Homo sapiens: one gene and its partner. The protein of the gene in region 1 purifies or fractionates together with the protein of each later gene. This does not show direct contact. Each region holds a gene or a part of one and is shown on either strand. Other genes may lie near its edges.

Region 1 (7,023 bases):
AGCCAGGCATGGTGGTGCACACCTGTAATCCCAGCTACTCGGGAGGCTGAGACAAGAGAATCACTTGAACCCAGGAGGCGGAGGTTGCAGTGAGCTGAGATGGTGCCAGTGCACTCCAGCCTGGGAGACAGAGCTAGACTCTGTCTCAAGAAGAAGGAAGGAAGAAAGGAAGGAAGGGAGGGAGGGAGGGAGGGAGGGAGGGAGGGAGGGGAAAGAAAGAAAGAAGGAAGAAAGAAAAAGAAAGAAAAGAGAAAGACAGAGAGAGAAAGAAAGAAAGAAAAAGAAAAGAGAGAAAGGAAGGAATGAAGGAAGGAAAGAAAGAAAAGAAAAGAAAAAAGAAATGTAGATTCATGAGCCCCACTGAGACCTACTGACTTGGAATCTGCTTTTTAACGCGATCTCCAGGTGTTTCCTGGGCATGTTCCAGTTGGAGAGGCTCTGCTTAACAGTGTGCCATTTCTACTTTTTAGGAGGGAAAATGTGCTTCCTTGCTCCTGGTGTTCCCTTCCACGTGGAAGGGCATCCATGAGTGTATTGCTCCTGGCCTCTCTCTGCCCCCTTAAATTCTGCTTTTGGAAAGGGGGTATGACCACCAGAATGGTGAGTGTGAGGAGAGGAAGGGGACACAGGGAGCCCAGTCCCTTTCTCTCTCAGCAGCAAGAAACCCGAAAGGACTCCACTCTTCTCTGCCCCAAGGCCTGGCTCCACGTGGGTCCAGCTCCACCATGATCGGGTGGTTCAATTTGCCTAATTCTGGGTTCACTATTCAGAGGCCAACACAGTCTCTAAAATCAGCTTTACCAGAATAAAGGTGATAACCTGGCCCACATGCACCTTACCCCTTTCAGTCTCATTCACTGTGTTCAGAGTTCAGGTAAAGACAAGTGACTATTTATTACGTCCCCCGGAGACCCTGGCACCACCGCCTAGAATTGCTCTTCCTTCAGCTCCCCCATCAGTCTCTTTCACCTAGTGAATTTCTATGCATCCTTCAAGCCTCAGTTCAAATGTCACATCCTCAGGAAAACCTTCCTTGACTGCCCAGACTTGCTGTCCTAACAGTTGCTTTCTTTTTTCTTTTTTTTTTAATTAAAAAAAAATTTTTTTTTAGATGGAGTCTCGCTCTGTCACCCAGACTGGAATGCAGTGGCACAATCTCGGCTGACCGCAACCTCCGCCTTCCAGGTTCAAGCAATTCTCTGCCTCAGCCTCCCGAGTAGCTGGGATTACAGGCACCCGCCACCATGCCCAGCTAGTTTTTGTATTTTTAGTAGAGACAGGGTTTCATCATCTTGGCCAGGCTGGTCTTGAACTCCTGACCTCGTGATCCACCGGCCTTGGCCTCCCAAATTGCTGGGATTACAGGCGTGAGCCACTGCACCCAGCTCCTAAGAGTCACTTTTGCAGTGGCATGTACTCTACTCAGCAGCTCTGGGCTCTGCTGCAACTCCACATTTATTTGTGGCTCATTATCGACTCATGTCCAGTTCCCTCTTTAGTTCCATGAGGGCGGGACCAAGGACTGTTCTCATTCACATGGTGCCTGGCATTCAGAGGCACTTCATAAATCCAATAGTATTTTGTTTTGGGGGCGGGGGGCGGTTTAGAAATAGAAGAAAAGGAAGAAATGGCGATAGGAGAGGAGAAGGAAGGAAAACGACAGGAGGGAGAGACAGATGAAGAAGAAAAATTAAAGAATTTGCAAATGCTAGGCTCTGCCACACATGGTCCTGTGGTGTCATCAAGGAGAGGTAAGCCTGGGGGACCCCCAACCCAACCGCAGAGGGCTTGCCCCAAGGAAGGGCAGGCAAAGAATTGGTTTCTGGGGCCCAGAAACCTGCCAAGTGAACAGGACAGACTTCTCTCCTTGTAGAGTGTCTTCCAGGCTATTCTTCCCTGAAGCCAACCACCCCACTCAACTCTGCCTTCCTCAAAAACCCAGAAGTGGAAGGCTGTACCCACTTGGTTGACACATGGGATCTGGGAACTAGAAGGGCCCTTAGAGATTACACCACCCAGCCTGCTGTGTACAGATGGGAATTGGAGGCCTTTGCAGAGATGGGAAAGGTCACATCTGCCCCTGGTCAGTGGCAGATCCAAGGTGGAAACCCAGGACCGCCCCTCCCTCCCTGTACAGGGTTCTGCCATCCACACCAGGCTGCCTTCCCCAAGAACAGAGAGCCTCCGTGAGCTCAGAGTGTGACTGGTTTAAGAGGCAGTGGCAAAAAGATCACATACTTGGGTCTCCGAAGCAGAACATCCTCAAATATGACCTCTCGGGGTTCCCGGGTCTGGGCTTGGAGCTCTTCCACCTCGGCCCTTAATACAGGCATGTTCTCCTCAAACTGGTCAATAATCTGAGAGGAAAGGCACAGCAGGGGAGAAGGGAGAGGCAAATGGCCCCCAACCAAAGGGAGAAAGGCCAAAATGAACGAGGAGCAAAGCTATCTGGGGAAATGGTATGGGTTCTGTCACTGGGACTTGCTGGACTCCAGGGAGGGGACTTCCCCATGCAAGGTGCGGCTGGCTTCCAAGTTAGTGACAATATTCAGTGGTGCTGAAACAGGTGAGGGATCATGGAGAATGGAGACAGGTTACAAAGTGGCGGGGAATGCTCAATCATGGGAATGAATGGAGGCTGGCAGAGATAGTGAAGGGCATACACATTAAAAACCAGTGAAGAGGCAAGATAATGAAAATTAATTCAAGAAGGCAGTGATGGTGAAGTTCATTAACACTGATAATGGGTGGTGGGCAGTAACAAGAATCAAGGGGTAAAGATGCACGGTGGTTAATGGCTGAATAGGTGATGTTTGGTGATGGTTGTAAATGGGTCATTAGCCAGCATTGCTGGCTAATGAGGCAAGGCCTAGGTCAGTGCCAATCGCCTTCCCAGATGAAAGACAAGTGACAGTAATGGCACCGGCAAGGAGGGAGGCCAACACCAGAGTCAGAGACCTCCTGAGCGCCAGATCAGGAGAAGCCTGACTCATTCCCACAGGCCGTGGGGACTGCCCATCCACTGCTTCCCTACAGGGACCACCACCTTCCTTGCCCACGCACTTCTCTGAACCTTTGCATGCATTTCAGGAAGTCCTGGCTTTCCCACATCTTCTGTAGGAGAGCCTCTTCATAGGGACGCTGGGTTTCCTGTGGAGGAAGAAGAGGTCTGGCCCCCAGGTGCCTCTTCCTGGGCAGCAGAACATGGTAGAGACCGATGGGGCTGCAGTGGGCCTGGAGGCAGAGGATGGGGAAGAGGGCGGGGTGGGGGTGAGACCTGGATCCCCGCTCCCACACAGCAACTGGCTACTCACCGCCACCACAGAACTCAGAATTTTTTTCTTCTTCTTCTGAATCTTGTCAGACAAGGATTCCAGGACCTTTCTGCGCATCTCACCGAGGTCATCCAGCTCATCCTGGGAGCCAGCAGAAGGGTGTTGGTCACCAGTCCTGCCTCCCACACAGTCTGGTGGGAGAGGGGCAGGGGCTCCCCTACCTGCTGGCTGTCCTTAACCTGCTGCAGCTGGCGCATAAGAGTGGAGATCTGGACAGACTTGATGGAATACTCATGGTCCATGTAAGTGCTCAGGAAGTTCACTTCCTCCTGGGTCTTCTCAATCTTGGCATTCAGCTGCTCTGCCTGCTGCTCAAGATCTGGGGAGGGGTTAGGGAGGTCAGCAGGGACAGGAGGCAAGACCTTCCCTCAAGCACCTGGGCCCCAGGAGGCCCAGGAGGCAAGGTCTCCTTGGCCAGTAACTGGGGTCTGGGCTGAGGTGAGCTCACACAGGGCTGGGAGGTGGTTAAAAGTTAAGGCTCTAGACGGTTTTCCACCCCTGCAGGAGAAGAGGCAATGCTGGGTAGGAAAAAGGAAGGGAATTGGTGCATGATCCCTAGACTAGTCCCCACTCTGCCACTGACTTGCCGGGTGGCTCTCGCCAAGACTGTCCCTCTCCAGACTTCAGTCTCCTCAGAGACACACTCAAGGAAGTGAGACCAGGCAGATGGGGTGACAGTGGCTCCCAAGACACAACCCATGGCAGGATTAAGACAAAGTCTATCCTGTCTTCCTCCAGAGAGACCCCCAATGTCTGGGGTTGACTGATCCACCACCCCTCTGCTCAGCAGGTGTGTAGTCTGCTCAGGGAAAAGGAACCACAGGCCAGGCAGGATGGAAGCCAGGAGACCCAGGTTCTAGCCCAGCCACTGACTCCCAGAAGGACCTTGGCAGGAAACAGAGCCAGGCTAGGATTGGATTCTGGCTCCTAGCTATATAACCTTCCACAAGCTACTGCACCTCTCTTAGCCTCGGTTTCCTCATCTGTAAAATGGGAGGACAGCTTCCCTGCCTCCAAGTAGTTGCAATGACTGAGTGTGTGCCTGTAACAATGCAGACATTGGTAGAGACCCAGATACGGGGCCTGGAAAGAGCTAAGTGTTGGGTAACTATGCTATTCGCTCTGTATCTTAGCATTCCCATCTGCCAAGAAGAGAGCCAATGGGGCTGAGGGTTTCTGAATGGCAAGTACAAGGTGAATGCTCTGCTGCTGACCTCCCCAAGGTGCCAGGGGGGAGGGTCAAGGAATTTGCCAGGGATTCTTACAGCTCATCTTGCATTTCTTCTTTTCTTCCCACTCCTGAAGCTCAGATTTCAATTGCTGCAGCCTCTTCTTGTTTGAGTACTCCAAGATGTCGATGATGGTCTGCGGGAGGGGTGGAGTCAACTCACCCACAGGCTCTGCTGGCTCTCAGAGGCGGCCACCCAGCACTTCCTCAGAGGAGTCCCCAGTCCCAACCTCACTCCCAGAAACCTGACCAGAGGCTAATCGGGACAGTAACAGTGTCCACCCATAGGGTTGTTGTAAGGACTATATAAAGACATACAGATCGCTTGCTATTACACGTAGAGGTGTTTGCAAATGCTGTTGGTGGTAGCAGCGACCTCTGTCGCACCGGTACAGTATGTGCCCGGTGAACCCCCTCTGGGACGGGTGCTATGGTGCCGCATTTCACAGAGCTCGGGGAGGCAAAGTTAACTAAAAGTCTCCCGGCCAGTGAGTGCTGGCGCGCTGGGATGAAACCCATCTCGGTCCTCTTGCAAAGCCCAGGTGAGGGGAGTGAAGGGTGAAGAAATGCGTCTTCCAGGTGGAGGAAGCACCACGTGCAGTGGGCGGGGAAAGGCAGGAGAGGGCGCGCGAGTGCGCGGAGGGAGGGCGGGACGGAGGGAGGGAGGGCGGGACGGAGGGAGGGAGGGAGGGACGGAGGGCGGGACGGCGGGAGGGCGGGACGGAGGGACGGAGGGAGGGCGGGACGGAGGGCGGGAGGGCGGGACGGAGGGAGGGAGGGAGGGAGGGACGGAGGGCGGGACGGAGGGACGGAGGGAGGGAGGGAGGGACGGAGGTTGGGACGGAGGGACGGAGGGCGGGCGGATGCCGCGGGTCTCACCGCCAGGGTGTCCTGCTGCTGCAGCAGGGCCCGCACGTGCAGGGTCGTGCTGTTCTCCATCTCCTGGATGGTCTCGATCAGCTCCCGGTTGAGCTTGCTGAGGAAGTTCTCACGGCTTCGGAGCTCTCGCAGAGCGGCCCTCCCGCTCCTGAGCGAGGTCTGCGGGCGGAGGGAAGAGCAGAGAGGCGGCGCTGCGCCCTGCCCGGCCTGAGCCCCCGAAAGCCCGTGGACCCGCCGCCCCGGCCCCGCCAGACGCCCGCCCCCGTGCGGCCTCCTGCTGGTAAACGCGGCCCAAGCTGGGCGGTTCCCCATTGTCTGCGCCGCCCGGGAGCTCCGGGACTCTCATCCGTTCGGAAACGCACGTGTACCCATCATCTCACATCCCTGAGGTGCGGGTGCATCTACAGTTGGTGGCGTGTCACCAACTAATCAACAAATATATTATTAGTGGGTAAATAAAGATGTGCCTTCATATCAATGGCTTCTCAGAATCAATGAAATATAGAAATAATAGTAAGGGCCGGGCGGGGTGGCTCACGTCTATAATCCCAGCACTTTGGGAGGCCAAGGTGGGCCGATCACGAGGTCAAGAGTTCGAGACCAGCCTGACCAACATGGTGAAACCCCGTCTCCACTAAAAATACAAAAATTAGCCGAGCGTGGTGGCGCGTGCCTGTAATGCCAGCTACTGGGGAGGCTGAGGCAGGAGAATCGCTTGAACCTGGGAGGCGGAGGTTGCAGTGAGCGAGATGGCGCCACTGCTCTCCAGCCTGGGCGACAGAGGAAGATTCCTGTCCCAATAATAATAATAATAATAAACGCCCCAGGTAGGTTAAGAAGGTGGCAGAGCGACCGCCATGTCTGGAGGAGAAGCAGGGGAGGCAAAATGGATGATAAACGTCAGCATTTCCGGGCAGGCCGCGGAGTCAATGAGTACTCTCATTTCACACAACAGCCCCCAGTGGAACAAGGAGGGTCTGAGGGTTAAGTGACTCGCCTAAGGTTACACCCAGCAGGTGCATAAAACCTACAGTAACAACAACAACAACAATTGTACTTCCCTAAGGTTACACCCAGCAGGTGCATAAAACCTACAGTAACAATAACAACAACAATTGTACTCCCCTAAGGTTACACCCAGCAGGTGCATAAAACCTACAGTAACAATAACAACAACAATTGTACTCCCCTAAGGTTACACCCAGCAGGTGCATAAAACCTACAGTAACAATAACAACAACAATTGCTGAGGGCCCTCTACATGCCAGGCCAGGTGCTGTGCCTTGCTCTGCAGGTGGCACATGGTATCTGTTCACCCTCCAACAGCTTTATGTTTACTAACTCTATTTTGCTGATAAATGGAGGCTCAGAGAGTTTAATGACTTGCCCAGTGTCACACAGTCAAGAAGTGGCAGGGCTGGAACTGGAAAGCCAGACTTCTGAATCCCAATGTCTGTCTTTCCGTTATGCTAAAACAAGAACTGAGTAGCCTTAAAACTGCAAGGCATGGCTGAACCACGTAGTGACTAAGACTTGGATGTTGAACCTAGACACACCTTGGTTCAAATCCCAGCTCAGCCA
Region 2 (7,023 bases), on another chromosome or scaffold:
TTTCAAAGAGCACCACCTGGAGCTTGTCGGAGAAGTAGAGGCTTTCGTGGTCGGGGCTGAAGGTGACAGTGAAGTCTTGTGTCTTCCCGGGGTCCATGACGCCCTTGACGGGGGCCACGCTGAACACGCTCTGACCGTTGAGATTCTGCGTCCCTGCGGGTAGGGTGGGGTGCAGTTTGGCCTTCTCCACCTGCAATCACTGTCTGCCCTCCAAGCCTTGCTGCATAGAGCTCTACACCCTGCCCGCCCCCCTGCAGAGCCCCTGTCCTGCCCGGTCCCCCCAATGGCCTTGCGCCCCCCACTCCTCCCATGGATCCAAGCGCCCACCCCCCCCATCTCACCAACCGCCCCCTCCAGCTCACTGCCCACCCCCCCAGCTCACCGCCCACCCCCCACCTCACCAACTGCCCCCCACCCAGCTCACCGCCCGTGCCCGCCAGCTCACCGACCACCCCCCTCCAGCTCACCACCCGCCCCTGCCAGTTCACCGCCCGCAGCCCATCTCATTGCCCAGCCCCCTATCTCACCAACTGTCCCCCTCCAGGCCACTGCCTACTCCCCCAGCTCACCGCCCACCCCCGCAGCTCACCACCCACCCCCCACCCCCCGCTCACCGACCACCTCCGTCCTCTGGGAGGGCGAGCTGAGGAACTGCGGCAGCTGCTGCTGGCCCCGGCCCCGGGTGCTGGAGAGGCTGTCCAGGTGCATGGAGAACTTGATGGGGAGCAGAGAGTTGTTCTGCAGCTGCAGAGAGCAGGCCGCGGTCACTGCCCGCCAGCCCCTGCCTGGCTGCCCCCTTCCTGTCGTCGGTGCCCAGGACTTGGCTGGTGCTATGAGGCCACACCCAAGTGGGGACCCGGGTGGCCTGATGACGCCAGCACACGTGGCGGTTTATTGAGCTGTGTGCCAACATCCCTTCTTCCAGCCTCTCATCAGCCTTTGCTAGGCCGGGGCTCGGCTTCCCTGCCTAGGGTGCGTGGACAGCTCTGGGGTGTCACCTGTCCTCCAGGGCGCCTGAGTCTCGCTCAGGCCCAGCTTAGCTGAACCCACGTCCCCACCTGTGTCCTCCCTGCCCTCACCCCCTCTCCTTAGAGCACCCTTTCTCCATGCAACGCCCGTCTCGGGCTCTGCCTCCAGGACCCGCCCTGAGCCAGGCGGAGAAGCAGGTGTCCCTCCCGGACCCACACTCGTGCGAAGGCATGAGGGCACACGCTGGTGCGAAGGCATGAGGGCACACGCTGGTGTGAAGGCATGAGGGCACACACTGGTCCAAAGGCATGAGGGCACACACTGGTGCGGAGGCATGAGGGCACACACTGGTGCGAAGGCATGAGGGCACACGCTGGTGCGAAGGCATGAGGGCACGCAGGGCAGGGCGAAGGCATGAGGGCACGCAGGGCAGGGCGAAGGCATGAGGGCACATGGGGCAGCGTGAAGGCATGAGGGCACACGCTGGTGTGAAGGCATGAGGGCACACAGGGCAGCGCGAAGGCACGAGGGCACACGCTGGTGCAAAGGCATGAGGGCACACGCTGGTGTGAAGGCATGAGGGCACACGCTGGTGTGAAGGCATGAGAGCACACAGGGCAGTGCGAGGCATGAGAGCACGCAGGGCAGTGCGGCTCACTGCAGAGGGCTGCAAACCCTTGCCCCCGGTGGCTGAGCTGAGCTCCAAAGGAGTGAGTTCAAGCAGCAGGGCAGGGGGTGGGTGGTGGGTGGGGGAGCTCTGTGCAGGGGCTGAGGAGGAGGGACAAAGAGCGCCAAGGAGGACAGGGAGGTGGGGAGGACTAGGGGACATCTGCAGCCTCCCCAGAAACAGGCCCCGGGTTCCCTGCAGGAGAGGGCGGCAGAGGCGGCAGCTGTGTAGAGGAGGGGTAGAGGGGGCCACCTGTGTCCCCACGGGCTCTCCGACCCACGGGTCACTTTTGACAGCTGGCCTGAGTCCTGCCTGGTGGAAACCCCTCCTGGGAGGCTGGAGCCAGCACCAGGGCCCACGTGTGCTTCACCTTGAAGCCTGAGGACACAGACTCTCCGGCAATCACATAGCCCATGTTGAGGACGCTGCCTTCAATGGAGCACGTGATCATGGACGCCACGCCAGTGCCCATGAGGGTGAGGGTGAGCGTGCCTCTCTTGGTGATGATGTCCAGTGTTTCTTGAGCCTAAAGAGACCACATCGCTCAGCCAGGAACCGATGTCTGCTGGAGCCACGAGGGGAGCTCTGCCTCAGGGGCAGTGGGTTCTCAACGCTGGAGTTGAGACAGCTCTGGGGGGGCTCTGTCAGCTCCGCTCACTTGGCGGCTGGTGTGAGGGCCTGGGGGCCAGGCTGCTCGCAGACCCAGGCTTAGTCCCAGGCCTGAGCACAGGTGATGCCCGCCCCGGCCAGTGCCTTTGTTCTGCAGTGTGGGGAGCCTTGGGCCGCAGTGTGGCCAGGGTGGGCCTGGGACTCACCAGGATGCTCTCGTGGGGAGAGAAGGAAAGCACCAGGACCTGGGTCCCACCTGCACGCAGCAGGCTGGAGTGGTTCAGCAGGACAAAGGGGCCGTTGGGGTTCAGCAGGGAGAAGTCCAGCTGAGGGTCCACGTCAAGGAGGGGATACAGGTGTCTGCAGGCTCTACCACGCCCTCCCCGGTCCCCGCTCCCACCCCGCAGGCCGCCTGAGCTGGGTGGACAAGGACACGGCCAGATCCTCGGGAGAGACGTTCTGGATGGAGATCTTCTTGATACTGCGGTGCCCTGAAATGGGGCAGGGAGCGTCAGGCCCCAGCCCCAGGCCCCAGGGAGCGTCTCTGCCAGGGGTGGGCCGTGGGGCTGGGGGAGGCGTGGGTGTGCCTGGGCACCGGGGTGGAGGTGTGGGCGGGGCTTAGCGTCTCACCCACAGCGACGTCGCCGAAGTTAAAGATGGTCTTGCCTTTATGGGACGTCACCACAACAGATGGTGCCACCGTCGGGCACCACAGCTCCAGGTACAGGGTGTTGTGGGGGCTGGGATAGGAAGGGCATGCTGAGGGCAGGGTGGGCGGCCCCCTGCCCGCCCAGGCCCCAGAGTTGGGCAGTAGCAGAGGGACAGCGCGTTTGCGGCTGACCACACCCTGTTCTGGCCAGAGCACCCCGCACCTGAAGCTCAGGGGTTCTGACCCCTTCCTGTCTTTGATGTCGCCACTGGCAACAACACAGGGAACTACAAATGTGTCAAACTTCGCCTGGAACGCTCTGAGCAGGGTGGCTCGGGCGGCCTGGTACTCGTCGGAACTAGAAGGAAGTCAGAGGCTTGCGCTCCCGCCTTGCCCCCACCCACCATCGGCCCAGGCCGGACCCCTGCGGCTCTGCCTCAGGGTCCCAGGGTCCCAGGGTCCCAAGCTGTGGCTGTCCCAGTTGTGTCTGACAAACTGGCTTTTCCACCCTTCTCTGGCTCCTGTGGGGGTCTCATCACTCACTTCAGGTCCTCGTCAGCTGGTGGCTGGAGGCTAGGGGTTGGGGCAGGTGCCTTTGGCCCCTGGCTAGAGAGCCATGTTCCTTCCCGGGGCCACAGGCACCCATTAGAGCTTTCCCAGGGCTCATTCTGCACCCGGGGGGCTGGGTGGGGGGTGGTGGCTTTGCTCCCCACCCGTGGATTGAGGCTGTGTGCAGGGGTGTCAGGCCTGGGGAAATGGGGTGGGTAGGTCCCAGGAAGGCAGCACCTGGATCCAGCTGTGTCTGAAGGCATCAGTCCTTCCAGCCACATGGGTCATTCCGGGCAATCTGTAGGGAGGGGACTCTACAGGGGCCACAGTGGGTCCCACCAGAGGGGCCTGGAGGGAAGCAGGTGGGGCAGCCCCTCCTGGACCCACCTGGGCCTCAGCTCCCGCTTCCGCATCTCCAGGACGTGGGGGACAGAGACTTTGAACAGCTTGTCGCGGTTCTGTGCTCGAAGAACGGAGAATGACAGTCCATGCAGGTCCTTCCTCTGGGGGGCCATATTCTTTCGGAACTGTGGGGGGAGCGACTGGCTGTGGGGCTGTGCAGGGCCCTAAACACAGCCAGCTGTGCCCCGTGGCTCCTCTGCGGCCAGTGCGGGAACCGCGGGAGCCGCAGTTGGGATTGAATGTGGGGACGCAAAAGCCGACCGGCGCCCGAGGAAGACAGTAGCCAGTGCGGAGGGGCACACAGACCCCCACAGAGCTGCTCACAGACTGTGGCGTCTGCTTCACCAGAGGATAAACCGAGGCACGGAGTGAGGAGGCGGCCAGAACCGGGGTCCCCACCCTGGTGCCTTCCCCTATCTTCACCGCGGAAGGCCGAAGGCAAGTGCTTCCCCTCGAGTGCACGCCCAGGAGGAACCCAGGCCGGGAAAGGCAAACCCTTGGGAGGAAGCCAGGCCGGGAAGGGCAAACCCTTGGGAGGAAGCCAGGCCGGGAAGGGCAAACCCTTGGGAGGAAGCCAGGCCGGGAAGGGCAAACCCTTGGGAGGAAGCCAGGCCGGGAAGGGCAAACCCTTGGGAGGAAGCCAGGCCGGGAAGGGCAAACCCTTGGGAGGAAGCCAGGCCGGGAAGGGCAAACCCTTGGGAGGAAGCCAGGCCGGGAAGGGCAAACCCGTGGGAGGAAGCCAGGCTGGGAAGGGTGCATCTGGAGTGTGGCAGGAGCCTCGAGGCCACCTCCAGGGCCGGCACTTGTGGGGCAGATTCTGCAGGACACTCCGTGTTTCAGGTGCGCCTCCCGGGGCCTCCAGGTTGTTGGAGGGGCCCTTCATTGCATCCGCTGCACCCCTGGGTCACAGCCCCTACTGCCCCCACCTCCAGAGCCCACCCTTCCCTGCTCCCGCCTGGCAGTGCCTTCCAGAGAGAAGGGAGGGTCTTGGTGAGCAAGCTTTTTAACCTCAGATACAGCTCGACACGTGCATTGCTTGGGAAAGGTCTACCCTGTGCTCCCGGCACGTGGCCGGAGCCCCCCAGGACTCGAAGGCGGTGGAGTTTGTTCCTGCAACAGGCCCTTCCCCGACCTACGCCCCTCCTTCCCGGGCCCCACGCACAGATTTGGTCTCCATTTCTTTGTTCAGGAGTGGGAGGGCTTCCTGGCGGATCAGCTTCTCGGGCAGCACTGGCCGGAAGGCCACCTGGACCAGGCACCTCTGAGGAGAGACCAGCGTGGGCACAGGGGTTGCCACTTCCCTCCACCTCCCCGGAGCCCCTGCGGGCACTCTACCGTCCTCTGCCCGTGGACTCCCCTCAAGGTCACCTCCCCCTTGAGATTTCAGGCTGCGTGCCCCTTCAGGAAGCCCCTCCCTGACCTCTGTCCCCCAGGAGGCTGGGCGGGCTGCAGGCGGGAGCACCAAACCCTCTGGCCATGCAGGGGGCAGTCCTGTGATTGGAGGTGCTGAGAATAGAGTCCTGGACAGGCCGGGACTGGGTCCCCTGTCCTCGGGGCAGCAGTGACAGCTGAGCCTGCCCTTGCCTTGAGTTTGACGGGCGAGTCCCACACCCTAACCTGGTCCCTGCACACACCAGCCTTTCCAAGGAGCCTCCATCTTGGAAATGGCTTCCCACAGAAGGGTCCCTCCATGACAGAGCCCACAGGCAGTGTGCAGTATGGGGTTGGGGGTGACATGGTGCGGGAGGGGGAGAGGGTGGGGGGAGGGTAGGGGAGGGAGGGAGTGAGGGTAGGGAGGGAGCGAGGGGAGAGGGTAGGGGAGGGAGAGGAGAGCTGCATCTGCAGTAATGTGTGTGGGGGTGAGAACCATCACCGAGTGGCTTTCGCTAAGTTGAATGAAATCCATTTTGAATCACTGCATTCATTGAAATCCCATGTGAGCCAACTGTCCCTTACATGCCCTTCCTCACTTAGGCCTTCGGCAGCCCTCAGGGTCACCCGAAGGCCCTGCCAGGCCCAGAGCTTTCTGCTCTGCAGGAAAGGTAGAGTGCTGGGTGGGAGTGGCCGACACCTTGTCCTCCCAGTCGGCCTGCGAGGTCCACAGGTGCAAGGGACTACACAGCCTTCCCCAGTCTCAACCTGGGAGCCCTGGATGGGTTCCGGCCAGGCCAGCAGCCTGGGGAGCTCCTGCCTCTCGGGGTCAGGCTGGACCAAGGGCACTGTGACCCCCCCCGATGGGGGTGGCCTTGGGCCCCCATGCACATTGGCCATGGATCCTTCCTCGGCCCTGCTCGGGTCTGAGGGTCAGGTTCACTCCCGCCCCTGTTCTCCGGGTTGAAACCCTGTGGTTAAGGGTGGGCAGAGCCAGACACCCCAGGGGTAAATGCAGGTGGCGTGGAGCTCCTGCTTCCCAGCCTGCATGTGGGGCCCACACCCACCTTTCCTGGCCACACGGTCCCCACTGAGGGCGAGATGGTGATAGGCGAGTCTGGGGGCAGCAGGAACTCGAAAGACGTGGGCCCCATGGGAGAGGCGTCCTCTGAGCCAATGCGGGGCTTGGAGTGGGTCGGTGAGCTCATGCTCAGGTGAGAGTTGATGACGTACACTGTAGCCACGGAGGTGTCGTATAGGGCCGTGGCGGCAAACTTGATCTGGTAGTGGGACAGCTCCAGGGGTGGGTGGACGCCTACAGCCCGGCAAGACAGCTTGAAGCACCTGCAAGCAGCAGCATGGGAGGCCCTCAGCCGTGCAGGGCGTCCGTGTCCCTCTGCGGCAGGCGCGGGGGCCACTGGGTGGAGGACAAGCCCCGGGGGGGGCTCACAGGGACATGCACGTTCCTGCTGCCCAGGGGGTCACTGCGCCGCTGACAAGTTTCGAAAATACAGCGTATCCTTGTGCACATTTGAGGTGGGTGGCTAAAAATTTTAAACCGTATTTATTCATTTATAAATAGAGATGGAGTCTCGCTCTGTTGCCCTAGGCTGGAGTGCAGTGGCACTACGACAGCTCACTGTAGCCTCGAACTCCTGGTTCAAGAGGTCCTCCTGCCTCAGCCTCCCGAGTAGCTGGGACTACAGATGAGTGCCACTGTGTCCTGGGTAGCTAAAAATTTAATCACAAGTTTAGATAGTTGCAAAGGAAGTTGCAAAGGAAATTTCTAGCTTATTTTGTTAAATAT

The links. Proteins that work in one complex are often made in the same cells at the same time.
Region 2: the proteins of C20orf96 (region 1) and CFAP74 purify together in Homo sapiens (co-immunoprecipitation; 2 studies listed by BioGRID and IntAct, with this or other methods). This does not show direct contact.

The regions. Positions count from the first base shown.
Region 1 is NC_000020.11:273,730-280,752, forward strand, and holds part of C20orf96 (uncharacterized protein C20orf96), read right to left. Parts: intron 5,602-7,023; coding exon 5,443-5,601; intron 4,701-5,442; coding exon 4,601-4,700; intron 3,655-4,600; coding exon 3,497-3,654; intron 3,417-3,496; coding exon 3,315-3,416; intron 3,151-3,314; coding exon 3,064-3,150; coding exon of another isoform or gene 3,031-3,063; exon of another isoform or gene 2,358-3,030; coding exon 2,239-2,357; intron 1-2,238.
Region 2 is NC_000001.11:1,923,777-1,930,799, forward strand, and holds part of CFAP74 (cilia- and flagella-associated protein 74), read right to left. Parts: intron 6,561-7,023; coding exon 6,284-6,560; intron 5,107-6,283; coding exon 5,008-5,106; intron 3,971-5,007; coding exon 3,831-3,970; intron 3,253-3,830; coding exon 3,118-3,252; intron 2,986-3,117; coding exon 2,876-2,985; intron 2,737-2,875; coding exon 2,681-2,736; intron 2,572-2,680; coding exon 2,452-2,571; intron 2,163-2,451; coding exon 2,007-2,162; intron 745-2,006; coding exon 615-744; intron 154-614; coding exon 1-153. UniProt on the Homo sapiens protein: As part of the central apparatus of the cilium axoneme may play a role in cilium movement. May play an important role in sperm architecture and function.